Homo sapiens: one gene and its partners. The protein of the gene in region 4 purifies or fractionates together with the protein of the main gene of each other region. This does not show direct contact. Each region holds a gene or a part of one and is shown on either strand. Other genes may lie near its edges.

Region 1 (7,036 bases), on a different chromosome or scaffold from region 4:
CAGTTCTTTGCTGAAGGGTAGAGTTCAATGTCACATGTGTGCATGTGTGTATAATGCACGTAGATACGCAGGTATACATACAGTTATATGCACATGTGGTATATACTATACACATTGATACACGTTGTTTCAAGCACACAGGGAAGCGGTGGGCGTGCTTTATTTGGCATGCACCTGTCACATGTGTGGCATGGTGCCTGGTGGCGCCTGGTGCGTGTGTTTGAGGAGGTGCTATAAGATAAATAAGATGGACCCTGAATCTATTCAACCACCTTTCACCAGGAAACTCACCACGTGCCAGGCACTGCTGAGGTGCAAAAGACACAGAGACGATCCCAGGAAAGTCTGCCCAGAGGAGCTTATATCTAATGGGAGACTGAAAATAAACCTCCGTGACAGGCCTCTGGGATAATCATGATGACAGAGGTTTATACTAAATACCACATAGCCACCGACGAAGGAAGGGCACCTGGGGGCACTCAGGGATGAAGATAAGTGGGGCCCTGGGTGCTAAAGTGGGAGGGAGGGCTGCTGTCAGCTTTTAAACAGGAGGCCATTTTGCCTGGATCTGTCTTGCAGGAGGCACATTCGAAATGTCTAATTTCCCCTGGGTGAGCTCATCGGTGCCCATGGATCCCATTACTATCTGGATGCTGATGGCTCGCAAATGTTATGTCCAGCCCAGCCATCTCCCGGGCTCCAGACCTTCACCGACAGCCTGCTCAGCACCTCAGCTTGTATCCCATATGTCCTCCTACCCCACAAGCCCAAACCACCTCCCCCGTGGCCTGGACTGCCATCTCTGCACAGGCCCCCTGGCCTGTCCTGCCATCTCCAGTTGCAGGCATCAGAGACCTGGGCGTCAGCCTTGATTCTGCCCTCTCCCCACTCTTAATGTAAATACAGGATGTTACCCACTAAGTATCTCCTGCGTCTTGCTCCCAACACCCCGCCCAGGGTGAATCACCATTGCCTCTCCCTGGGTTACTGCCATGGCCCCCCACCTCTACCCTCCTACCTCCACCCTGGACTGCCCTTCCCACCTGCCCTCCCCCTGGAAGCAGAGTGATCTTTTAAAACAAAAAATGTGAACAAGTCGCTCCCTTGCCTCAAAATTCTCCCCTGTATTCCCACTGCTCCTAGGAAGAAGACCAAACTCCTTACCATGTCCCCAAAACACGCTCCCAGTCCTACTGCAAGCCACGCTACTCCTTTCCCTTTCACCACAGGCAACCTTCTTTCAGTTCTCTAAAGGTTCTTTCCCACCCAGGGCTTCTTAGACGCTTCCCTGGCCCGAATGGCTCTCCCCACTCCCACCTACCCGCCTGCAGTGAGCAGACTAGAAAGACGCTCTCACGGATGCCTCTCTTAGGAAGCCCGCCCTGATACATGCCCCCCAGTGCTGCAATACCCTACCATTGTTCCTTACACTTCTTAGAACAACCTATCACTGTTGTCATGAAGTGAGTGTGAAAATAACACTGGATGTTTAGCTCCTGAGAAACAAATTAGGCTTCCTAAGGCTAAGGACCATGTCATCCTCGCATTTCGCTGGAACCCCTAAAACAGTGTAATAATGGACGCTGTGAGTACTTGAGTGCTTGTTTAAAGGAACGGATGGAAGACTAGAGTTAGGAAGACTGCTTTAGGTCTGCTGCCAAAACCAAACCCAACCCTAGCCTAGATGAGAACTGATGAGGGCCCGAGCCAGGGAGGAAGGGATGGATGATGAGACGTTTGGGGTGCAGAATCCACTGAGCCAACTGAGATATGGGGCAGTGGGTAGAAGAGTCTAAAATGATTACTAGGAGAATTTCTTTTTTTTTTTTTTGAGACGGAGTCTCGCTCTGTGGCCCAGGCTGGAGTGCAGTGGCACGATCTTGGCTCACTGCAAGCTCTGCCTCCCGGGTTCACGCCATTCTCCTGCCTCAGCCTCCCGAGTAGCTGGGACTACAGGCGCCCGCCACCACGCCCGGCTAATTTTTGGTATTTTTAGTAGAGACGGGGTTTCACCGTGTTAGCCAGGATGGTCTCGATCTCCTGACCTCATGATCCGCCCACCTCGGCCTCCCAAAGTGCTGGGATTACAGGCATGAGCCACCGTGCCCGGCCAATTACTAGGAGAATCTAATGTTTACAGGGGAGACTACATTTTTGACATGTTTAATTGTCCTACGCCCACTGTAGGTATTCACTGGAAATCAGCCCGATTTGCCAAACGGACTCAAGTCTCTCCATGAATATTCGCCTAACCATTTCTATCCTTGTTATCTTTAACTGTGGGCTGCCCATTGTCCTTCAAAGGTTATTTGTGGGAAGAATCTGCAGTCCAGGACGGTGGGTCTCCCTTACAGGGGCTTTGCAGAGTGAAGGGTACCACCAGTCCTGGACCACACCATGATAAATGCATGGATCTGGCCGCTGGCCTCAGGGGGCCAGTCACCTCTGCTTCCCCTCCCTCTGACAGCAGGGCCTCGGCAGGTGGGAAGGTCTCCTGTAAGACTCCCTACCTCGGGCAGGCCCTGGGCTTGGAGTAAGTGCCCTCAGGCATCACCCAAGTCTATAGGTCGAACCTGCCCCTACACTGTGGGGATGGTTTATTAAAGATAGAGAGTTTAAATATTTTCCAGAAAGCTGGCAGAATAAATAAATGACTGCATTTTAACACACAACTGAGAGTACTCTGCAAAAAATGGTTTTCCCCGCCAACAGTATTTGCCAGTAAAGGTAGAACCTTAGAGTAAACAAAAATGGAAATGTATCTAACTAAACTGAATCTTAAAAATTAGCTGGGTGCAGGGGCTCATGCTTAATCTCAGCATTTTGAGAAGCCAAGGCAGGAGGATCTCTTGAGGAGAGTTCAAGACCAGCCTGAGCAACAAAGAAAGACTGCATCTCTAAAAAATTTTTTTAAAATTTAGCCAGGTGTGGTGGCGCATGCCTATAGTCCCAGCTACTCGGGAGGCTGAGGTGTGAGGATTGCTAGAGTCCAAGGGTTCGAGGTCAGTGAGCCATGATCACACCACTGCACTCCAACCTGGGCAACAGAGTGAGACCCTGACTCTAAATAAAAAATAAATAATTAATTAAACTTAAAAAAAAAACAAGTCCTTTAAAGAAAGAAAAACTCTTCTGAAGAGGTATTTCTTAAAAAGTAAACCAAAGAGAGTATGCACTTGCTCCTGCTGACACCTTCGCACACCCCCAGTCCTGGGCCAGATTAAAATGAATGTGCAGCCTTCAGCAGAAATGAAATCTATGTGCCAAACGTCTAGTGAGAAAAACATGAAGCTGGGGGTGACGGGTGGTATCAATAATAATTATACAGCTTTTAGAGTTTACAGCACACTTTTTGTTTGTAATTAGTAATGCTTCTGAAGGTGTTTAAAAATTTTGCTAATACTAGAAACCCTCTATTAATGAGCTTGATAAAATTTTAAGGATGAATAGTTGTTCCTGAAAGAAATTTTTGTAAGGAGTACAAAATGCCACTGATTTTAAGTCCTTGGAGAGACTGTCTTACTAGAGAGAGCAATGCTTTCATGTTCCGTTTTCAATGTTATCCATGATGAAGGTTTTCACGCTACTAGTTTTATAGCATGAACAAGCTGTAACACTAGAAACAAAGATGTTATTTCTCCTCTCTTATCCAACCTCCACTCAACTAAAATGTTTTTTAAGAGAATATGTGAAAAGGTTTACACTATCCCAGAAATGGACAATAACCAATTAATGGTTACTTTTTAAGCACAGTTTTGTGATTTTTTTCCACCAAAATGCGTGGGTTTGTTTATAATGTGATAAATGGTTGTGGTTTGGCTATAAGTTCCTTCCTGGCTGGAGCACCAAGTATACTAATTAGAAATTCTCGCTTAGCGTGGGTGCTTTTGCTTTGCACTTTTCCATGAAAGCGTTTTCCTCCGATTTTGCTATCACAGAATGCCTCAGTCAGTCTTCTGTCACTGCATGAGAATGCAAAAGAGGCCTGAAAATACTTCGGAGCGTTGAGTTTGGATAATTTCCTTACAGGTGTTCCTTTTAAATCCAACTACTTGTTTATAACCATCGAGGTGTCAACTTGAAAATCCTGCTGTAATCATAGTTAAGAGAATGTCATCAGTATTAGAGATGTCAAAAGATGTTTAAGATTATTAAATAAATTATTGTTAATTTCCAAAATATAAATGTTTAGAAATTAAAACAACATTCCATTGCAAAACTAGAAAAAATAAACTTCAGTCGCTCAAAGGATTATTATAGTGATTTCAAAATTTGACTGGGCAGGTCCCATGGACTCGACCCGCTGTAGTTACTAACAAGTAGCACCTGCAGGAGAAGAAGCCAGGCCAGATCTGGGACATGGCAGATACGCTCCAGTCAGGCCTTAGAGGGCATCTGATAATTCTCTCATGACACCTTCCAAGGCAAGAAGAAAAAAGGCTATTAACCACAATCACAACCCTGTAAGGCAATGGTCAATTTCAATGTTACTATAATGCTGAAATATCTTAGTAAGTGCTGGGATTATTTATAGCATTACAACACAGATTATAATGGTGTTGTAATCTGATAGGGCTCTGCCTGTTCGAGGAAACTTACCCTCAAAAAAAAAAGGTAATTAAATTTAAGAAAAGATTTAGCCATAGTACATGTAAAGTACACAAGAATTTTACTTGAAAATCAGTAAAAGGTAATAATGTGATGTGACAAGAAATGGAGTCTATATAACCTTAGGCTGCATTATTAGAAGTATAGGCCAGGTACAGTGGCTCATGCCTATAATCCTAGCACTTTGGGAGGCTGAGAAGGGTAGATCACCTGAGGTCATGACTTCGAGACCAGCCTGGCCAACATGGTGAAACCCCATTTCTACTAAAAATACAAAAATTAGCCAGGCTGGTGGCACACGCCTGTAATTCCAGCTACTCTGGAGGCTGAGGCAGGAGAACTGCTTGAACCTAGGGGGCGGAGGTTTTAGTGAGGCAAGATTGCACCACTGCACTCCAGCCTGGGCGACAGAGTGAGACTCTGTCTCGAAAAAAAAAAAAAAAAAGTATAGACTTTGGAATAAGGGAGGTGACATATCCAATTCTAATCTTCTTTGTGTAGAAAACATGCCTGGAATACCACATTCAGTTGTATCAAGTTAAGAAAGAAATACAGACAAAAGGAAACAGGTGTAGATGAAGCAACCAGGATGATTAAGGGTCTAAAATTACGTCTTAAGAGCTAGAAGATGTGAGAAAGAACTATAATCATTGTCTTCAAACATGTGATGACCTAATATATGGATAAGATATTAAACCTATTCTCTACGGACCCAAGGAACACAACTTCGGCTGATTTTTCACTGCTTGTAGGAACTGACAGTCTGAACTGTCTGGAGAAAAAATGGATTGCCTGGAGAGGTAGTTACTTTCCAGTCTCTTGAAAATGCTCATGCACAGGTTGAACAGCCTTTCTAGCTTTGAACAGCCTTTCCAGCTTCCCCCACAGGGCAGAGATTTCAAGCTGGAGGGGTGGGGGAAGGAGAGGAGGGCCAAAGCACCATCCTCTCCCCACTCCCTGTCAGCTATGCCAGCTCTGTATCTATCTGCTTTACCATTGGGTTCCTGGGTAACCTTTACTTTGAAGAAACAGCTCAAAGGCTTAAGAAAGTAAACCATGAGATGAGATTACTTGCCAGGTCCGTTCAGGCACTGAGATTCTTATAACCTGTGGCAACCACGTGCAGTTGTGCACTGACTCGTTTTGGTGAGCTGTGATTGATCAAAGGATCCAAAGGACTCATGGAAATGCATGAGCAACATTTTGTTACTTGCTCCCACTTCTTTCCCTCTTTCATCCATTTCCTTAATTACTTATTCTTTTATCAAAAATGTATAATAAAACAAGCTTAATATTTAGGTTTCAAAAAGTTAAGACTGGTTCCTAAAAATGTTAAGCCCAGAGTTACCATATGACCTAGCAATTCTGCTCCTAGATATCTGCCCAAGAGAAATGAAAACATAGGTCCACACAAAAATGTGCATGTGAGTGCCCATAGTAGCATTATTGATAAGAGTCAAAAAGTGGAAATAACCCAAATAACCCATCAACAAGTAACAGATTTAAACAGTGTGGTATCTCTCCACAAGGGAATATAATTTGGCCATAAAAAGGAATGGCATGATGACACAGGCTACAACATGGATGAACCTTAAAACATATGCTAAGTGAAAGAAGCCAGGAACAAAATACCAAACATTCTATAATTCCATTTAAATAAAATGCCCAGAATCTATAAAGACAGAAAGTAGATTAATGGTTGCCAGGGGTGAGGGCGATGGGGGAACATGGAGTGACTGCTAGTAGGTACTAGGGTTTCTTCTGGAGTAATGCAAAGGTTCTAAAATCAGAGAGTGGTAACAACTGGACAATTCTGTGAATATACTACACGCACTTAATGGTACACTTTAAAAACACATTTTTATGGTATGTAAATATTTCAATAAAGCTATTACTCTCTCACACACACACACACACACACACACACATACACACACAAAGATTTAGACTGGTATCCAAGCCCTTCCTAGTTCTGTGGCCTGATAAAGTTGCCAAATCTCTTCGAGCCTCCGTTTTCTCAGGCACAAAGGAAGGATGGTAACACCACCTACTTCAAAATGAGGCCTCGAAGAAAATATGGAGTTATTTCCCAAATCATAAATTGTCTTATAAAGGATAGCTACTGTTCACTTTTTAAAACACTTCAGGTTTTTTTTTTTTCCCAGCATTAAAAGAAGTTTGTGAGCTGGGCATGATAGCACGCACCTGTAGTCCCAGCTACTTGAGAGACTGAGGTAGGACTGCTTGAGCCCCAGGAGTTTGAGTCTGCAGTGAGCTGTGATCATGCCACTGCACTCCAACCTGGGTCACAGAGCAAGGTGTGGCTCAAAGAAAAAAAAAAAAAAAAGCTTGTGATTTCTAGCTCACTTTACAGATTTCAAATACTCTGAAGAAAACAATGCACACATTTTCTGCTTAAATGAGAAAG
Region 2 (5,825 bases), on a different chromosome or scaffold from region 4:
AGAGGTCTGACTGTGACAGGATACTGGCATGAGAAAAGGTCAGCAAGCCAAAATGAAGACTGGAATTGTAAAAACATTGGAAGAGGGCAGAGAAAAATAACTCATGGTAAAGGGAGAATTCTGAAAACTACACCAAAAAAAAAAAAAAAGTTATATGTCCTTTAGGACACATGCCAGAGCCCTAGGATGTACTGGGTGTTCCTCTACATACAACCACATATGGGGAACACCCATGCTTTAGACAGGTTCCTCTTGTTCTTTGGGCAGTGAATGCAAAATGGTGCTTTGTAAGCTTTACAGTATTATCCTTTGAACTCCAAAAGGGTCTTTCCAACCAAAATTTACTGAGAAGTCTGAAGAATACTCCCTCAAGAAGGCAAAAGAGTCTAAATGCCCTCATTCCAGGTCTCCTTTCCCTCCCCAGTAAGGTTTTCTGCCTCCACCTATTTGCCAGGAGATAAGAGAGATGGCCCAAGGTTGAAAAACACATAACAACTTTCTCAAATGACTTAGATTTAATCATCGGAAGCAAACTAAATGGAAACCTTACAATAGAGAAGAATTACATGTCAGTGTCTTTTGGAAAACTGAGCTGGGACAGAAAGGGACTGGGGGCTGCCCCCCAACCTGATCCCTTCTGAACAAAGACGTCCACAGTGTTCCTGGCACTCTGGCTCAGGAAAAGGGGAGACTCTGCTGGTTCTGTGCATTGAAGTAGCCTTGCCTAGCACTCACTCCTGGCCAGCATCAGGAGCCCCGCCTTGCCGGCTCTGGTCATCGCCTTTCTTTTTGTGGCCTGAAACGATGTCATCAATTCGCAGTAGCAGAACTGCCGTCTAGGAGAAAAACCACAGATGCAAAGAGGTCAGCAGAGAAGGAAAGGACACTTTTCTTTCCTTTAGATCTATCACCTAGATGCTACTATGGAACTGCCATTTTGTCTGAAATCTACCTTTTCAGTCTTTTATTTTTTTTTGAGACGCAGTTTCCCTCTTATCACCCAGGCTAGAGTGCAGTAGCATGATGTCGGTTCACTGCAACCTCCGCCTCCCGGGTTCAAGCGATTCTACTACCTCAGCCTCCCAAGCAGCTGGGATTACAGGCCTGCACCACCATGCCTGGCTAATTTTGTATTTTTAGTAGAGATGGGGTTTCCTCATGTTGGTCAGGCTGGTCTTGAACTCCTGACCTCACGTGATCCACCTGCCTTAGCCTCCCAAAGTGCTGGGATTACAGGCGTGACCCACCATGCCCGGCCTTTTCAGTCCTGAATGTAAAATGCAGTTCTCAGCCAGGTGTGGTGGCTCACACCTGTAATCCTAGCACTTTGGTTGGTCAAGGCAGGTGGATCACAAGGTCAGGAGTTCGAGACCAGCCCGGCCAACATGGTAAAACCCCGTCTCTACTAAAAATAGAAAAAATTAGCCGGGTGTGGTGGCAGGCACCTGTAATCCCAGCTACTTGGGAGGCTGAGGCAGGAGAATCACTTGAACCTGGGAGGTGGAGGCTGCAGTGAGCGGAGACCATGCCACTGCACTCCAGCCTGGGCAACGGAGCGATAGTCTGTTTCAAAAAAAAAAAAAAAAAAAAAAAAAAATGCACTTCTCCCTAAGCAAGTGATACAGATTGTGCTATATTATCTTGCTTTTAGTACGAGCTAAAGATAATTAAAGAGATAGAATGCCTTGGAATACCTTAGAGGAATATTCTGCCTTCTTTACCCCTCCCTTCAAGACTAGACCAGGCTGGGCATGGTGGCTCATGCCTGTAACTCCAGCACTTTGGGAGGCCAAGGTGGGTAGATCATCTGAGGTCAGGAGTTCGAGACCAGCCTGAACAACATAGTGAAACCCTATCTCTACTAAAAAATACAAAAATTAGCTGGGAGTGGTGGTGCATGCCTGTAGCCCCAGCTACTTGGGAGGTTGAGGCACAAGAATTGCTTGAACCCGGGAGGCGGAGATTGCAGTGAGCCGAGATCACACCACTGCACTCCAGCCTGGGTGACTGAGACTGCGTCTCAAAAATAAATAAATAGATAAATAAATAAATTAATTAAAACAGCGTGTACATATCTTAGGGTGCCTTACCTCCACTGCTGTCTTATAAGTCTGCAGCTTCACAGCCAATGGCTCCCATATGCCCAGTTCCTTCATGTCCACCAAAGTACCCGTCTCACCATTTACACCCCAGGTCTCACAGTTCTCCTGGGTGTGCTTGGCCTGCAATTGAAGCAAGAAGTAAAGGGGAAAATAAGTTAACAGGAAACATCAGGTAAGAAATGAAGTAAAAAACAATGGACCAGTATGGAAGGGACAGGGAAAAATGGCAATGACAGCAAACAAGTCAAAGACTAAAAGGAGAGAAAGATTTCAAGGAATAGACTATAAAGAGAATTTGGATAGCCAGATAAGAATCTTCCCCTCAGGGCAAACACAGCTTTCCCTGCTCCATCAAGAGAAAAGCTTGGAGAGGAACTCACCCGAAGGGAGGTAAGTAGACGGATGGTGCTGGCCCCACAGTTCTGGATCAGGGTACGAGGAATGACCTCTAGGGCCTGGGCAACAGCCCTGTATGGCCATTGTTCCACACCAGTCATGGCCTTGGATTTTTCTGTCAAGGCATGGGCCACAGCCATCTCGGAGGCCCCACCCCCTGGCACCAGCTGAGGGTCCAGGAGAACATTGCGACACACTTGCATGGCATCCTGGAGGTTGCGTTCTACTTCCTTGGAGAAGCAAACAGACAGTATGAAGCCAAAGCTTGATGACTCATAAAATCGGAGGCACCAAAAGGACTTCCTAACTGCCAAAGTTAGTAAACCACCAAGGAGGGCAACTAGAAAAGGTCCTTGGAACCCCTACTGGGCAGGGCAGATTATTTACCTGAGAATATATAACACACGACTATAATATAGGATGGCGGGGAGTGGTATCTGCAAAGGGTTTGGGGGTGTCACCCAACCATAAAGTTAGGTCTTTGTCCATTATGCTAGATTAAGAGCAATAACCTATTTCATCCCTTGCCAGTTATATGGAAATAAACAGCATGTATCTTGATAGATAAGAGCCATAACCTATTCCACCCCTTCCTAGTTGTATCTTTTAGGAGGTTGCATGGTGTTGTACACTCTCCTACTTACTAGCTATGTGCCTTTGGGAAAGTTACTTAGCCTCAATGAGGAAAAAAAAGTAATATTTATAACTTCAACGTAAAAAATAAGAAAACAGTTGTTGCTAGGGAGTAGGAGATGAGATATCTTGTTTGATGGGTACAGAGTCTCAGTTCTGCAAGATGAAAAAGTTCTGAAGATCTCTTGCACAATAACATGAATATACTTAACATTACTGAACTGTACAATTAAAATGATTAAGATGGTAAATTTTATGCTTACTACAATTTTTAAAATTTTAAATTATTTAATTAAAAAAAGGAAGCAGAAAAGGAATTTGTGGCTATAGGTCCAAATTAAATAGCTATAAATGGACCACAGAATTATTTTAGGCCCTTTGGGAAACTCTCAAGAAGTTCAGTGATCTACTTCATCTGGTCATACATCCAAGGCTGACTCACCGAGAGAATCTCTTTGCTAGCCCCCCGGAGGAGAATGGTGCAGGCCTTGGGGTCTTTGCAGTCAGTGATGAAAGTAAAGTATTCATCTCCAATTTTCTTGATTTCCAACAGGCCTGCTCCTGTTCCAACATCATCTTCTCTCAGTTCCTCTGGTCGGCTGACTATCCGGGCCCCACAGGCTCTAATGGACGGAAGAGGTGGGGAGAATCAGATGATTTCAGATACTTGTACCCATTTCCCTAGTCTCTAGGGTCTGTAGCTAGGGATAAGGGCAAAAGTGGATTGTTGGAAACATCACTTAAGAGGTCTTGCCTGTCCGGTGAAAAAGATTTTCAGGGGGCCAGGCACAGTGGCTCACACTTGTAATCCCAGTACTTTGGGAGGCCAGGCAAAAGGATTGCTTGAGCCCAGAAGTTTGAGACCAGCCCGGGCAACATAACAAGACTCTGTCTCTACAAAAAATAAAAAACTAGCTGGGCACAGTGATGCATACCTGTAGCTCCAGCTACTCAGGAGGGTGAGGTGAGGGATCCCTTGAAACCATGATATCAAGGATGCAGTGAGCTGTGACCATGCCACTGCACTCCAGCCTAGATAACAGAGTGGGACCCTATCTAAAAAAAAACAAACACAAAAACCCCAAAAAACAACAACAAAAAAAACTGAAGCCATCATTGCAGTTACAGCAGCACTGCAGCTATGCCAGCAGCTGTGAAAACCCTGTGCTTTTTGAGAAATATACCTATTAATCTCATATTGAAAATGCAGGTTTTATATAGGTAAGAACAGCATACCTATATACACTAATATGATTTGAAAAAATGTGAAATCATTATGATACCTCATCAGAAAAGGAAGGTGAAAGATCTAAAGCTGGAGAATTTAATGCCAGCAAAGGATGGTTTGATAATTTTAGAAAGAGGTTTGTTTGGCTTTTAAAATGTCAAGATAGCAGGAAACAGCTTCTGCTGACCAAGAAACAGCAGACATGTTCCCAGATACCATTAAGAAAATGATTGAGGGCTGGGCTTGGTGGCTTACGCCTGTAATCCTAACACTTTGGAAGGCCGAGGTGGGTGGATGACTTGAGGTCAGGAGTTCGAGACCAGCCTGGTGAAACCCCGCCTCTACTAAAAATACAAGAAAAAATTAGCCAGGTGTCATGGCACACGCCTGTACTCCCAGCTACTTGGGAGCCTGAGGCAGGAGAATCACTTGAACCCAGGAAGCAGAGGTTGCAGCGAGCTGAGATTTCACCACTGCACTCCAGCCTGGGTGACAGAGTAAGATTCTGTCTCAAAAAAAAAAAGAAAAAAAAAAAAAGAGAGAGAGAGAGAGAGAGAAATCATTGAGGAGAAATGGTATCTGCCTAAATACAATTTTAATGTATATGAAAGCGACCTAATCAGGAAGATTATGCCACAAATGACATTTATTAGTAAGAAAGAGAAGGGAGCACCAGGATTTTGTGCAAAGGAGTTAGCCTGTCCCTTGGGCAGTCAAGTTTATGTCTTGTAGTGTACAACCAGGCCTGGACAACAAGAATACTTTTTCTGGATTACTTCCATCGATGCTTTGTCCTTGAAGTCAGGAAGTACTTTTCCAGAAAGGGACTGCCTTTTAAAGTGCTTCTGATATTGGACAATGCCCCTGGCTACCCAGAGCCCCATGAGTTCAACACTGAAGACATTCAAATACTCTAGACCACACAGTCAGAGAAGGACCTGTAAGGCTTATTACACATGGTACTTCATGTAAAGAACCGTCGGCTGGGCACGGTGGCTCATGCCTGTAATCCCAGCACTTTGGGAGGCCAAGGCGGGCGGATCACGAGGTCAAGAGATTGAGACCATCCTGGCCAACATGGTGAAAACCCGTCTTTCCTAAAAATACAAAAATTAGCTGGGCATGGTGGTGCGCACCTGTAGTCCCAGCTACTCGGGAGGCTGAGGCAGGAGAATCGCTTGAACCAGGAGGCGGAGGGTGCAGTGAGCCAAGATCACACCACTGCACTCCAGCCTGGCAACAGAGCGAGACTCTGTCTCCAAAAAAAAAAAAAAAAAAGTCAACATTATGAAAGAGAACCCCAACAAAGAGAACATGATGAAAATATGAAAGGATTACATTACTGAAGATGCCACAGTTGTTATAGATAAAGCTTATGAAAGCCATCAAGCCCAAAACAATAGATTTCTGCAGGAGCAAACTGTGTCCAGATGTTGTACATGACTTCGTAGGATTTATGACAGAGC
Region 3 (7,407 bases), on a different chromosome or scaffold from region 4:
CAATGTACATCTTACAGGTATTGATTGATGTCTCACGTCTCCCTAAAACGTGTAAAACTAAGCTGTAGCCCGACTTCCTTGGGGACATGTGACCTCCTGAGGCTGCCTCACGGGCACACCCTTAACCTTCTAAACTGATTGAGACTCGTCTCAGATACTTTTTGGTTGACATATCCAGGCACTGCTCCCTTCCACACAGCTGCCAGCTCTTCACAACCTCCCAGACCCTGAACCACCGCTTTCTCCTCCTCTCAGCAGCTGAAACTGCTTCTGTCCAATCCGGCAGCTCCCACCTCCACATCTGAACACACCCACTGCTTCCCAGCAAAACTGCCTTTGCAAAAGTGATCTGTGAGGAAATTATGGCAATGGGGCAGATCTGATCCAGGCAACCCCCTCATGCCTTTAGTCTTCAAGCTGCCAAGCTACCTCTGGGAGACATTTAATTTATAGTTTAAATGCTAAGAGCCCTTCCCCAAAACTCAACTGCCTTTGTAAAGTTAATGAGAGGCCACCAGGCTAGGAGGAGGAGAGGAGCCTGAATTCCGCTAAGGCGTAACCTAATTGCCAGCCATTATTCTTGAGATCACAAGACATGCGAGTTCCCCAGTTACTCCTGCAGACCATGTCACTATTGCAGAACCTGAGACTGGCCTTTAAAGATATCTTTTCAGATTGTTTCCATGTCTGACACCTACACTAGGATCCACGGACCCATGATAGCTCCACCTGGACCCGCCCACTGCTCCTGGGGCCCCACGCAGACGCGATTCAGCACATCACGGAGGATCATTTCCGACTCCCCTATGATTGTATACCCCTAACCAATCAGCCACCCCCACCCTTTCCCCCAGATTACCTCTAAAAAACCCTGGCCCTCAAATTCTCAGGGAGACTGATCTGAGTAATAATAAAACTCCAGCCGGGCGTGGTGGCTCACTTTGGGAGGCTGAGGCGGGTGGATCACGAGGTCAGGAGATCGAGACCATCCTGGCTAACACGATGAAACCCGTCACTACTAATAATACGAAAAATTAGGTGGGCGTGGTGGCGCGCACCTGTAGTCCCAGCTACTCGGGAGGCTGAGGCAGGAGAATCACTTGAACCTGGGAGGTGGAGGTTGTGGAGGTTGCAGTGAGCTGAGATCTCATCACTGCACTCCACCCTGGGGGACAAAGTGAGACTCCGCCTCAAAAAAAAAAAAAAAAACCTCTAGTCTAGTCTCCCTTTCAACCGGCTCTGCGTGAACTAAATCTTCTCCATGGCAACTCCCCTGCCCTGACAAATCAACTCTATCTGGGCAGCCCGCAGAAAGAACCCACTGGGGCCGAGCGCAGTGGCTCACACCTGTAATCTCAACACTTTGGGAGGCTGAGTCGGGCGACCACTTGAGGTCAGGAGTTTGAGACCAGCCTGACCAACATGGTGAAACCCCCTCTACTAAAAATACAAAATTAGCCGGGCGTGGTGGCGCGCGCCTGTAGCCCCAGCTACTCGGGAGGCTAAGACAGGAGAATAGCTTGAACCTGAGAGGTTGAGGTTGCAGTGAGCCAAGATCGCACCACTGCACTGCACTCCAGCCTGGGCAACAGAGCAAGACTTCGTATCAAAAAAAAAAAAAAAAAAAAAAGGAAGAAGCCATTGGGCTGTTACACCAGGAACAAAAAATCTGGCTTCACTGGTCCCTGGATGAGGGTCCCTCACCCTCAGAACAGTTCTGCACGAGAGGCATCGTTATCCGCCCCAGCTTACACCCGAAGAAACAGGCAATCAAGTATCAGGTCCAAGCGACAGGGCCAGAATTCACAGGCAGGAGGATCTGACGCCGAACCCGCACTCCTCCCACAAGGCCCCCCACCCTGCCTGACTCCTAAAATCAAAGCGCTGTCATTCTAAAATGAGGAAGGCCAAATAATGCAAAAGTTCTTCTTACTCAAAGGGTCTACAAAGATGATTTTACTGAATTACAAAACCCCATGTAACTACTTAGCTATGAGCTCCTAAGGACTTGTTTGGAAATAACCCATTATAGACAGCGGTAAAGGTGGGTCTGAACTCGGAGAATTTAGACTCATCGAATGGCCTCCACAGGGGTACCTACACCCCACCCCGCCTGCAGAGGCACGGACCCGGCCAGCCCGCTCTGTCCACGGCGTCCACGGAACGGACAGGCTGCTGCCCTCCCCACCCGAGGCGCGCTTTGTTTGCAGCAGGTTTGTTCCCTGCGTCCCCCTCTCTCATTCCCTATCTCCCTGTCCACACAACATTCACAGAAACCGCGCTCGGTGGAGGCAAGCCTGGGAGTCCACACTGCAGGGCTGACCAGCTGTCCGGAGGGGTCTGGCCCGAGTCTCCCCAGCCCAGGGACCTCCTCCAGTGACGGAGACGGGGGACGGAGGGCTTCTGCACCCCGCCTCCCGGGGAGGCCGCAGAGGCTTCACCCCGTGCGAGAGCAGGCGCTCCGCGGGCCACGGTCCCCCCAAGGGAGGCGCGCGTCTGCCCCGTGCACCTAACGCCGCGCCGGGGTGGCCCTCTCCCGCCTAGGAAGGCCGCGCCCCACCACGGCCCGCGGGACCGCGCACCGGCAGCCCTCGCAGAGCGGCCGGCGCCGCCGGGCTGCGGTCCCCGCCCGGTAAAGTGCACTCAGCGCGCCGAACCCGGGCCGGGGGAGGAAGCGGGCACGCGGCGCCGCCCACGCACCGCGGAACCGCTCCAGGGCCACCTCGCGCTCCGCGCCGCCGCCGTGCACCTCCCGCAGGCGGCCCAGCAGCGCCCGGGTCTCCGCGCTCTCGCCGAACGCTTCCAGCGCCGCGCCAAAGGCCAGTGTCTCGTCCTCCGCCTCCTCCTCGGGGCCGCCCGCGGCCGGTTCGTCGCTCAGGGCCATCTCGGCAGCCTGGGGACCGCGCCCCCGCCTCACGTGTTCGCAGATCCCACTCCGCTAGAGCGCGAAAGCCAGGGATGAAGGATGAGGGATGAAAAGGAGGCGCCCGCTAAGGCGGCAACCGACGCTGGCCCCGCCCCGCGACCTCCGACCCCACTCGCCGGCCTCGCTACGGAACGCGTCGGCCGCCAAAATACCGCGCGCGGGACGGCGCGTGCACTTGAGGACGCGAGCGGGCACGGGTCCCAAAGGCTCTGGAAGAGCGCGCCGTGGACCCCACAGGGCGCGAGCGGAGCCGGGACCGCTCAGCGGGGCCTGAGCACGCGGTGGGCGGGGCAGGACAGGAGGTGGGGCCTGAGACGCGGTGGGCCGGGCTGCGGGGTGAGGCCGCCGCCGGAGGACAGCGGGGCGGAGCCTGAGCAGGCGGTGTGCGGGGGGGCGGGGCTTCGGGATGGGGCCGGGGGCCGCCAGGGCGGGGCTTGAGCACGCGATAGGGGGCGGGGCTGCGCGCAACGGGGGCGGGGCCCGGGCACGCGTGGGTGGGAGGGGCAGGGCTTGCGGTGGGGCCGGAGACAGCGGGGCGGAGCCACAACACGCCGGGGGGCGGGGCGGGGGCGGGGCGGGGGCGGGTGGGACCGGGGGACCGCGGAGCGGGGCGGAGCCTCAGCATGCGTGGACGGGGAGGGGCGGGGCCTGAGCACGCAGTCGGGGGCGCGAGGCGAGCCCCGGGACCCACCCCTCAGAGCCAACCGCCCTGACACTTATTCGCGCCACGCTGGGACCCGCGCGGATCACACGGGCCCCGCGCCGAGTGGTGGCGCGCCCCAGAGCGGGAGCGGGAGCGGGGCCCGGAGGCCGCGGTGGGCGCTGCGCCGACTTTGGCCTTGGCTACCGGGTCCGCGTGCGTTTCCCCTGAATCGCCGCAAAAACGTCCGTGCACAGCTCGCCGTGCGTCTGGCCCTGAAAGCAGCCCCACGAGCGGAGGAACGAGGCGCAGGACGCCAGCCGAGACCCGCTGCGGGCTTTATTGGTCCCCAGGATCTGGGAGGGGTCGGGGGAAGGGGGACAGGGACAGGGGGGACGGGGACGGGGGACGGGGACGGGGGGACGGCGATGGGAGACGGGGATGGAGGATGGGGACGGGGGAACGGAGACGGGGACGGGGCAGGGGGGACGGGGACGGAGATGGGGGACGGGGATGGGGGGTCGGGGACAGGGGGATTGGTATGTGGACAGGGGGACAGGGGGACGGGGGACAGGGATGGAGGGACGGGGACGGGGGGACGGGGACAGGAGGATGGGGGGACGGGGGGATGGAGACGGAGGGACGGGGAGACGGGAACAGGGGGACAGGGACGGGGGCACAGGGACGGGGGACGGGGGGACAGGGACGGGGAGACGGAGACGGGGACGGGGACAGGGGAAGGGAGGGCAGGGGCCGCTACTTGAGCAGCCTTCGCATGGTGCCCAAGGAAGGGCTCCTGTACTCCCGCCCGAAGTGGTTCCAGTGGTTCAGGTAGTTAAACAGCTGGTAGAGCAGCAGCCGCTGGTCGAAGCCCGGAGCCTTGGGGATCTTCCGGTGGTAGGCGGTGAAGAAGGATCTGGGGAACCCCCCAAACATCAAGGCGATTGCCAGTTCAAACTCGGAATGGCCATAGAAGGAAGCCGGGTCGTAAATAATGGGCCCCACGTCGTCCTCAGCCACGTTTCCCGACCAGAGATCCCCGTGGAGCAACGCGGGGACAATCTCTAGGCCACAAAACAGATCCGGGATCTTCACCTACGAGAGCAACGGCTGCAGTTATCGCTGGCCTCTGGGAGCCCCGGTCTCATCACCTCGTTCTTGGAAATAAGGCAAAGCCCACTCGCGATCTGCTTCGGTGTCCAGCCCCAGCACTGCCTGCCAAGCCCAGAAATAGGGGCCACCTGACTTCAGGGGAGTCTAGCTTTGTCTAACTTAGGATTTCCTCCTAATTTAGGTCTAGAATCCCCACACAGTGGAGAACCTCTGAGGTTATAGTTTTAATCGACCCACAGAATAGGAACCAGTGTTGCGCTACCTTAGCAAACTCTGGCCACTTTTATTTCGCTACACATATATGTCTGCAGGTTTTGTTTGGTTTTGTTGTTTTTTTCTTTGAGAGGGAATCTTGCTCTGTCACCCAGGCTGGAGTGCAGTGGCGCCATCTCGGCTCACTGCAACCTCCGCCTCCCGGATTCAAGTGATTCTCCTGCCTCAGCCTACTGAGTAGCTGGGATTACAGGCACCCGCCACTACACCCGGCTAATTTTTGTATTTTTAGTAGAGATGGGGTTTCACCATATTGGCCAGTCTGGTCTTGAAATCCTGACCTCAGGTAAAATCTATCCACCTCGGCCTCCCAAAGTGCTAGGATTACAGGCTTGAGCCACCGTGCCCAGCCTAGTTTCTTCATTAATGAGTTCAAGTCTCTTTGATGTATACTCACTCTGGATTGACATGCACATTCTTTTTTAACATTTTGAGAGTTATATTTTGATTTTTTTTCTTTTTGATACAGGATCTCACTCTGTCGTCCAGGCTGGAGTGCAATGGTGCAATCTCCCCTCACTGCAGCCTCCGCCTCCCGGGTTCAAGTGATTCTCCTGCCTCAGCCTCCTGAGTAGCTGGGATTACAGGCATGCACCACCATGCACGGTTAATTTTTGCATTTTTAGTACAGACAGGGTTTCACCATGTTGGCCAGGCTGGTCTCAAACTCCTGACCTCAAGTGATCTGCCCACCTAGGCCTCCCAAATGCTGCGATTACAGGCGTGAACCACTGTGCCCGGCCGAGAGTTATGTTTTGAAATCAGTCATTCTGGATCATCTGGTACCCACATCTTCCCATGGGAGAGGAACACGATGGAGTGGACAAGTGTTACTGATAGTAAGAACAGTAATCATGGTAAACACCACCATTTACAAGCACCTGTGTTTCACATGAGGAAAGTCTGAGGCTAAATACCTGGTGACCTAGCAGTGGAGAGGGGCACGAGGAGCCAAGTGTGTCTTCACTCCTCACTCCTTTCGGACTCCCTTTTGGGGGAACCCCCGCCCCTGCCCCCCTTCCTCCCTGATGTGTGCTCCAGGACTCAGTGTTCCCTGCTCCAGCTCCGTTTTACAGATGAACCCGCACAAATGCGGCGGGATCATGAGAGGACCAGCTCTTTCCCAGAGAAGTCACTGCCGTGCCCACCTGTAGCCGGGACCAGAGTTCTCGTGCCTCTCGGTCAGCATAGTCCTTCTCAATGAGGTCCAGCTGCGCCTGGAGCCGGTGCCGGGCGAAAAAGGTCGGCCAGTCATCCTGCCACTCATTCACCTGGACAACAAGGGAAAAGAGGCCACTGTTGCAATTCGGAGCCAAGTGCTGCCTAAACCCTAGAGGGACCATTCAAAACCCAGCAAAGATACCTAGTAAGCCAACAAAGGAGGTAAGACAGAAACATAAAATACTCAACCCAGAGGAAGGCAGGTAAAGAGAGAACAAAGGGCAGATGAAACAAAAAACAAATTGCAAGATGACAGACTCAAAACTATATGACTAAGCACATTAAATACGAATGTCAAAAATAAATACTCTTGGTAAATGACAGATTGGCAGGTTGGAAAAATAAAGCAAATCCAACAATAAGTTATGTGCAAAAAGACATTATCTACTAAAAAAAAAAAAAGCTTGAAAGGATAGAAAAGATATACCATGCTAACACTAGTCAAAAGAAAGCTGGAGGCCAGGCACAGTGGCTCACGCCTGCAATTCCCAGCACTTTGGGAGGCTGAGGTGGGCAGATCCCTTGAGCCCAGGAGTTAAAGACCAGTCTAGGCAACATAAGGAAACTCCATCTCTACTAAAAATACAAAATTAGCCGGGCATGGTGGCGTGGGCCTGTAGTCCCAGCTACTTGGGAGGCTGACGTAGGAGAATCGCTTGAACCCACAGGCAAAGGGTGCAGTGAGCCGAGATCGCGCCATTGCACTCCAGCCTGGGCAACAAGAGTGAAACTCTATCTCAAAAAAAAAAAGAAAAAAAAAAAGAAAGCTAGAGTGGCTACATTAATACAAGACAAAGTAGATTTCAAAGCAAAGAAAATCAAATATAGTCATTTCACAAAGGGAGTCGACTAATGAACATAATAATCCTAAATGCCTACACCTCTAATAACACAGCTTCAAAATACGTAAAAGAACTGCAGGAAAAATAGATAAATCCCATATCCTGCTATTGACTCAATGGTGCCCACCCCCGTTCCTACGTTGAAGCCCTAACCCCTAATATACCTGTATTTGGAGGAAGGGCCTCTAGGAGGTAATTAGGGTTAAATAAAATCGTAAGGGTGAATTATTAATCCAATAGGATTAGTGGCCTATAAGAAGAGGAATAGAGTAGGATTTCTCTCTCCATGCAAACAGATCTCAATAAATTGAGAAGAATTTAAGCATGCAAAGTATAATCAAATTCAATTAGAAATCAATAGGAAGGCCAGGCCTGGTGGCTCACGCCCATAA
Region 4 (6,916 bases):
CCATGCTTCTTTCCTTCCACTGCCAGGTTATCGTCCCGGGAAGCCCCCCACCCCCTCGCTTTCCTCCTCCGCTTTCCCTAACCCGTCTCGCGGGGGCATCTACGCCTCGTCCTCGCCCTCCTCCTCCTCGAACTCCCCTTGTTCGTCGGCCGTGGCGTCCTGGTACTGCTGGTACTCGGACACCAGGTCGTTCATGTTGCTCTCGGCCTCGGTGAACTCCATCTCGTCCATGCCCTCGCCCGTGTACCAGTGCAGGAAGGCCTTGCGCCGGAACATGGCCGTGAACTGCTCGGAGATGCGCTTGAACAGCTCCTGGATGGCCGTGCTGTTGCCGATGAAGGTGGCCGACATCTTCAGGCCGCGGGGCGGGATGTCGCACACGGCCGTCTTCACGTTGTTGGGGATCCACTCCACGAAGTAGCTGCTGTTCTTGTTCTGCACGTTGAGCATCTGCTCGTCCACCTCCTTCATGGACATGCGGCCCCGGAAGATGGCAGCCACCGTCAGGTAGCGGCCGTGGCGCGGGTCGCAGGCGGCCATCATGTTCTTGGAGTCGAACATCTGCTGGGTGAGCTCGGGCACCGTGAGCGCCCGGTACTGCTGGCTGCCCCGGCTGGTCAGGGGCGCGAAGCCGGGCATGAAGAAGTGCAGGCGAGGGAAGGGCACCATGTTCACCGCCAGCTTGCGCAGGTCTGCGTTCAGCTGGCCCGGGAAGCGCAGGCAGGTGGTGACCCCGCTCATGGTGGCCGACACCAGGTGGTTGAGGTCCCCGTAGGTGGGGGTGGTCAGCTTCAGGGTGCGGAAGCAGATGTCATACAGGGCCTCGTTGTCAATGCAGTAGGTTTCATCTGTGTTTTCCACCAGCTGGTGGACCGAGAGGGTGGCGTTGTAGGGCTCCACCACCGTGTCTGACACCTTGGGTGAGGGCATGACGCTGAAGGTGTTCATGATGCGGTCTGGGTACTCTTCCCGGATCTTGCTGATGAGCAGGGTGCCCATCCCGGACCCCGTGCCGCCCCCCAGAGAGTGGGTCAGCTGGAAGCCCTGGAGACAGTCACAGCTCTCTGACTCCTTCCTCACCACATCCAGGACCGAGTCGACCAGCTCGGCTCCCTCTGTGTAGTGGCCCTTGGCCCAGTTATTCCCGGCTCCACTCTGGCCTGCCAGAGGGAAAGAGAAATCTTAAGTCACCGGTGATTGTACTAAATACCTTACCTCAAACCCCTCAATATAGATCAGTGAGTCAATGCTCAGATAAGACTATTTCAGATTATCACCAAAATGGCCAAACGTTAAAATATTTGTTCATGAATATAATTATAAATAAGGAAGGCCAGGACACCAAGCTCTTAGCAGCTGAAAGGCAAACAATTTTACACTATATTAAAGCTAAGTTGGCACACCGCGGATGTTCTTCATGCTTTCCCTCTGGCAATCACACCTCTTCAGCCTCCACTGCCCAGCGTAAAATGAATCCCTCATGCTCTCAGCCACACCAGGCACTCACCAAACACGAAATTGTCTGGTCTGAAGATCTGGCCGAATGGTCCAGACCTAACCGAATCCATCGTGCCTGGCTCCAGATCCACGAGGATGGCCCGAGGAACATATTTGTTACCTGCAAGGAACAACAGTGACTTAGACCCTCAGGCAAGGACCTCTGCAGAGAAGGGCTTGGCGCCTGCTGCCATCATGCAGATGTTGCCCCAAACAAAGGGAGACCCACCATCAGGTTCTCAAAGGGCTCTGTTGGCATAAGGAAGCCCAATGAAATACTGCAGGGAAAGAGCGGGGATCCTAAACTGAATAGTCCACCCTCTCCCAGGGCCACACCCCTGGGGTCCCACGCAAGGGAAAGGGGAGAAGGTGGAAAAACTGAAGGGAGTGGGGGTGGGGCAAGGGTGATTACCAGTGGCTTCATTGTAGTAAACATTGATTCTCTCCAGCTGCAAATCACTGTCTCCATGGTAACTGCCAGTGGGGTCAATCCCATGCTCATCACTGATGACCTCCCAAAACTGAGACAGAAAGGCTGCATTTAGCCATGAACGATGCCCCCAGAAACGCCAAGGCTCACAATGAAATGTCCCCGACTCAGTTCCGACAACCCAACATTTCAGGAGCTTGAAGCTTTAAAGGGCGTCGTGACCCGGGCACAGCCGCGGGGCTTGTATTTTGCAGGTTCAGAAAGTTGAAACTGGGCGTTTCCCAGGCAAACAGCTGCCGCTCGCGGGGGGAGGTAGGGGTCGAGGGGGTAAGGACCAGCCAAAGCCGGGCAGTGGCGGAGCTTGGCGCACTGGTCGCAGCCCCAGGCTGCGGCAGGAGGCGAGGGCACAGGGACTGCAGCCCGCCAGGAGCGGGTGGGCGGGGAAAGAGGAACGCAAAGGAGCTAAAGGACCGCGGTTTTAGATTCAAAGCACGTCCTGAGACCGCAAGACAATCGCTCTCCTCCCCTCCCCCGGCAGCTCGACTCCGGTTCAAGCGAGTACAATTAATCCTCCTGGTGTCCCAGCCCCTCGCGCGGAGCGCCGCGCACAGCCTCGCGGACACACCCTCGTCTTCTCCAGGCACGCGTGCCTGCCAAGCAGCCAGCGCGGAGGGAGGCCGAGGGGGTGACGGGGACTCCAAATGAGTTACAGCAGAAAGAAAGAGAGGTGCCCCCTCCGTCCGCGAAAGTCACCTCCTAGCCCAGGCCACACTCGGCGGCACAAAGCGGCCAGGAAGGTCTGCATTTGGCGATCCCCAGGCCTTCCCAGGACCGCGCCTGGGGACCCCGAGGGGCTCTCGGCCCAGGTTCGCGCCCCCATTGGACCCCCTCCGCTGCGGCGCGCCCACCTTGGCGCCGATCTGGTTGCCGCACTGGCCCGCCTGGATGTGCACGATCTCACGCATGGTGCCTCGTCAGCGTCCTCCTGGTCCGGCGGCGTCTGGGTCTGTCCGTCCTCCCCTCACACACCCACTGCGGGGTCACCGGGAAGGCGCTCGGGAACCGACGGGCTGAGAGCGCCGGCCCCGCGGGCTCCGGCTTTTATGCAAGGAGGGTGGGGCGGCCGGCACAGGCCGCGCCCCCAGCCCGAGCCCCCCAGTCCCCTTCGCGCTGGCGCTCTCCAGGCCCGGCTGACGTAATGCTCCGAGCCCTAGGGACCGTCCGGGGGGCTGGACCACCGGCCCGCGGCCAATCAGAGCGGGCGTGCCGACCGGGAGAGGGGTGGGGGCTACCGGGAGTATGGTGGGGGCGTGCGCATTGTCTGGGGCTGTGGTGGGGGTCTGGGTATGGGGATATGGGGGAACAGTGAAGAAAAGGAGGGTGAGAGGGCGGCGAGGCGAGGGCCACCAGCGCGTCCTGACCGGGGTGGGGGCAGAGCTGGCACCGGATGGGAACGATGGAGGACTGGAGCATGTGGAGAAGCCGTCAGGTGCTCCAGTGCCGGCAGGTGGGAGGGCTGAGGTGGCACAGGCTGCTCCGCCACCTCGGACTGCGGCTCCTACTCGGCCACTGGCCAGAGTCCCTCCAGCCAACTGCCCCTGGTGAGACCACCGTCTTTTTCCTCAACCCTGGAGGCCAGCGACTGCCCAGGCGGCGCTCCGTCTCACAGAGGCCTGGGGGAGGACAGGTGGCCCCAGAAGGAAGTCGTGCTTGATGGCAACCGGGACACCTGCGGCCCATGAACACCAGCGCGGCCTCCGCCCCCGCCCCAGCGTGGGCCTGCTTTCTCCTTTGTCTGTCTTGGGCTGGTAGCTCCTCTCACTGCGCCGCAGCATCTAGGGGTGAAGCGACCTCGGAGCCCCTCAGCCCTGCCCGACCCTCTCCGGGAGTGCATAACGCCCCTGCTGGTACCCAGGAGCCCTCTGCCCCGGGGGTTGACTTTTGTTGCTCGCTAGTGATGGAGTGGGAGTGGCCGGTGGCGCTGCACTGACCGTCCGGAGGGCAGAAAGAGGGTGGGGTCCCGGGGGCGGGGCTGTCGGCGGAACAAAGGGCTCTCAGAAACGTGGGATACGCTGTGTAACCCAGTATTTAAAACCACACGACAGGCGCCCCACCCCCCCACCCCGCCCTCGGATTCAGTTCATCTATTGTCAAGTAAGAGGGTGGGTTCCAAGGGTGGCCCAAGCCCGAGTAACAAACTTTCTTATCTTCCATCGCGGCGACCTGGAGGTCCGAGGCTTCGTGCTGCGGTTGAAGGGTGGGGAATACGACTAAAAACTGCAGCCCAGCGCGCGCGAGACGACCCAAGACCCACGCGCACTCGCACGAGCGCGTGCACAGACTTGGAGCACAGACCCTCCCTTCAGATCCGCAGTCTCTAGGTACTGAGGCAGGAACTGGTCTCTTTGTTACTTTTCGCGCGCGCGTGTGTGTGTGTGTGTGTGAGAGAGAGAGAGAAAGAGAGAGAGAGAGAGACTAATCCTGCGTGCGTTTGAGGGCGGGAGGGGAAAGGGTGTCAGAAACGTTCACTGCACAACCTGTTCCCTGCAATTCGATGACTGAAGCGCGCCGCCCCACACTTCGGAAGGGCCGTTGGCGAGGTGACGTGACCTCTTTCATCCCCTGGCGAGAAAGGCCGAATGACCCGGGCGCACGCGGCGGAGCTCAGCCTGCAGCTGTTGAGCGAGACCCTCCCAGAACTATCAGCAAGCTGTCATCGCCTCCCTTTCCCGCTGTGGGGTGGAGGGTGGGGGGTTCAAGTCGATTCCAATGTACAAAGAGAAGTAGCGAGAACAAAAGCCCAGGCGCCCCCAAACATCCAGGGCGCCCAGACTGGAGCTCGCCGGCCGGTATTCCAGACCCGGCCGGCGTGCCCGGGTGAGGGTGGGGTCTACCGAGAGGCAGAGAGCAGCGGAGGGTCTGTCCACATGCCCTGCTCTCCCGGTACCAAGGTCTCGGGGCCTGACCTCCGAGTTTCTAATCCAGATCCTGCAGATGCCGAAACGTCGAGGGCTAGCAATTCCCAAGGTCATACAGCAAGTTGAGGACAGGGCTCGGACTGGAATCTCGTCTTTTGGGCACACCAGACCTCAGGGAAAGTGACCGCATCTCGGCCAAAAGGGCTGTGGCAGGTGTCAGCCTCGAGGTGGCGGCTCTGGTGGGACCAAGCTGCGCCGGAAGGAACAGAGCTAGGGCGGCACCCGCGCGGCGAGTGTAGACACACTCGGAGCGGTCACCCCCTCGCTGCGAGCTCCCAGGAGCAACCCTGATGCTCAGCGCTGGGGGGTGGGGTTGGGGGCCGCTCAGCTCCATGCTGAGTAACTTGAGCTGGCCGCCTGCCTCCTTCATCTAACCAATTCATTTCTCAGCTTCTGTTTCCGAGCCAAATCTCCATTCAGTGCCCGGGTGAAAACGCGTGTTCAAGATCATATAGATAGATGAAAAGACCCTTTCCTCTCAGGTTTCTTTTAAAGGGGTTGGTTTGGGATAGGATGAGGCTGGAAATCATCCTTCTGAAAGCCCAGAGTGCCCTTGGGGACACTTTTGGCCCAAGATCTGCTTTCCTTTCAAGCATTTTGCTCGAATTGTCCCCACACCCCTGCCCCTTCCGGGCAGCCAGTCTTGTTAACCGGTCTACATCGCACCCCCACCCCCACCCCCACTGGAATTGTGATGCTGCACATTTTTATTTTCACAAGGAGCCGATTTTGTGTTAAAATGTTGACAACAGCCACACCTTTCCCTGAAGTCTTTCAGTTTATCTGATAACCCTTAAACAAAAAAATCATTCTTAATCCATGTAGCTCGCATAAAGAGACTGGTACCCGGCTTTCAAAGAAAAAAAAAGTCGTTTTCAGTTGGGTCCCCAGCATTTCTGTCTATTCATTATATGCAATGCGTCTCAATCTAGGTCATCGTATATCAGGCACGAAGATTTCGGGGCAACATATTTCATGATCTCTTAATGTTAGTCTTGATGATGTACTAACATTTAAAAATTTTCCCTTCCAGAGACAATTGTAGAAATATTGCTGCATAAAATACAATTCAACATTTGTTTTATACGTAATCTATTGCGTGACTGAGGTGAGCAAGATATCCCTTAAACTATTAAAATTATATTTGCTTTCACAATTTTCAGATTACTTTCAACGGCATGTCCTCAAGTGAATTTGCATTTCTCTATTACACACACAGTCATTGTTTGAAGAAGTCTGATAGAAAAGAGGCTTTATATAGTAGTAAATTTTTAAAGCACTGTTTTCATAATGTAGCATATATTTTTGACACATTTATTGAAATTACTAGACATTTAGCATTAGGGTTCTTCACTGCTTGCCAGGATTCACCGCTTAAAACCCCAAAAACCCAGCCCGCAGCCCCCATAGCTGGCTCTGCAGCCGAGATGCACGCGGTTTCCTAGGCAACCGACACTTAGCCAATGAATGAAGAGGAGTTGAAAGAAAGAGACTGCAAATCCATCATTATTTCCTTACACACACACACGCACACACACACACACACACACACACACACACATCACCTCTTCTCATAGCTCTCCATTTAGAAATATTGGAAAGCTACCAATCCTAGCATTTATGTAAAAGAGCCAAATGCCCGGGGCATGGGGGCTAGGAAGCGGTCGCAGCCCCATACTGTGACTGCGGAAAGGACACAGTGGAGGAAGCTCCCGGGATCCGCCAAGATCTGCGCCTTCTCAGCTTTGTCGCTCCCCAGTTTCTATTCCATTGCCCTCCCCCTTCCCCCCAGGCCTTCCCTCCTCCGCCTGGGAAGCCAGCGGCCCCGGCGGAGCTGCCCGGCACTGTTTAGTCGCAGGGGCTGCGGGGTGGCAGCCTCAGAGCCCTGTCCTTCCGCAGCCGTGGGCCCCGCAGGGACCAGCCAAGCAGGGCAACCAAAAGCTGGAACCAGCAGCGAAAACCCCGAGCCCACGAACGCAGCGCAGTGCGGGAACACTTGCCCTTTGTTCCT

Evidence for each region.
Region 1: the proteins of TUBB2B (region 4) and EML1 purify together in Homo sapiens (affinity purification with mass spectrometry; 3 studies listed by BioGRID and IntAct, with this or other methods). This does not show direct contact.
Region 2: the proteins of TUBB2B (region 4) and CCT3 purify together in Homo sapiens (affinity purification with mass spectrometry; 3 studies listed by BioGRID and IntAct, with this or other methods). This does not show direct contact.
Region 3: the proteins of TUBB2B (region 4) and TBCD purify together in Homo sapiens (affinity purification with mass spectrometry; 3 studies listed by BioGRID and IntAct, with this or other methods). This does not show direct contact.

The regions. Positions count from the first base shown.
Region 1 is NC_000014.9:99,796,410-99,803,445, reverse strand, and holds part of EML1 (echinoderm microtubule-associated protein-like 1), read right to left. Parts: intron 1-7,036. UniProt on the Homo sapiens protein: Modulates the assembly and organization of the microtubule cytoskeleton, and probably plays a role in regulating the orientation of the mitotic spindle and the orientation of the plane of cell division.
Region 2 is NC_000001.11:156,308,468-156,314,292, forward strand, and holds the end of CCT3 (T-complex protein 1 subunit gamma), read right to left. Parts: intron 3,755-5,825; coding exon 3,574-3,754; intron 2,729-3,573; coding exon 2,483-2,728; intron 2,223-2,482; coding exon 2,091-2,222; intron 837-2,090; coding exon 732-836; 3' UTR 501-731; downstream 1-500. UniProt on the Homo sapiens protein: Component of the chaperonin-containing T-complex (TRiC), a molecular chaperone complex that assists the folding of actin, tubulin and other proteins upon ATP hydrolysis.
Region 3 is NC_000017.11:82,747,671-82,755,077, reverse strand, and holds the start of TBCD (tubulin-specific chaperone D), read right to left. Parts: upstream 3,014-7,407; 5' UTR 2,885-3,013; coding exon 2,701-2,884; intron 2,587-2,700; exon of another isoform or gene 2,324-2,586; intron 1-2,323. Other genes in the region: FN3K (fructosamine-3-kinase), read right to left, coding at 4,323-4,661, 6,101-6,223.
Region 4 is NC_000006.12:3,224,652-3,231,567, forward strand, and holds the start of TUBB2B (tubulin beta-2B chain), read right to left. Parts: upstream 3,003-6,916; 5' UTR 2,893-3,002; coding exon 2,836-2,892; intron 2,019-2,835; coding exon 1,910-2,018; intron 1,619-1,909; coding exon 1,508-1,618; intron 1,161-1,507; coding exon 100-1,160; 3' UTR 1-99. UniProt on the Homo sapiens protein: Tubulin is the major constituent of microtubules, a cylinder consisting of laterally associated linear protofilaments composed of alpha- and beta-tubulin heterodimers.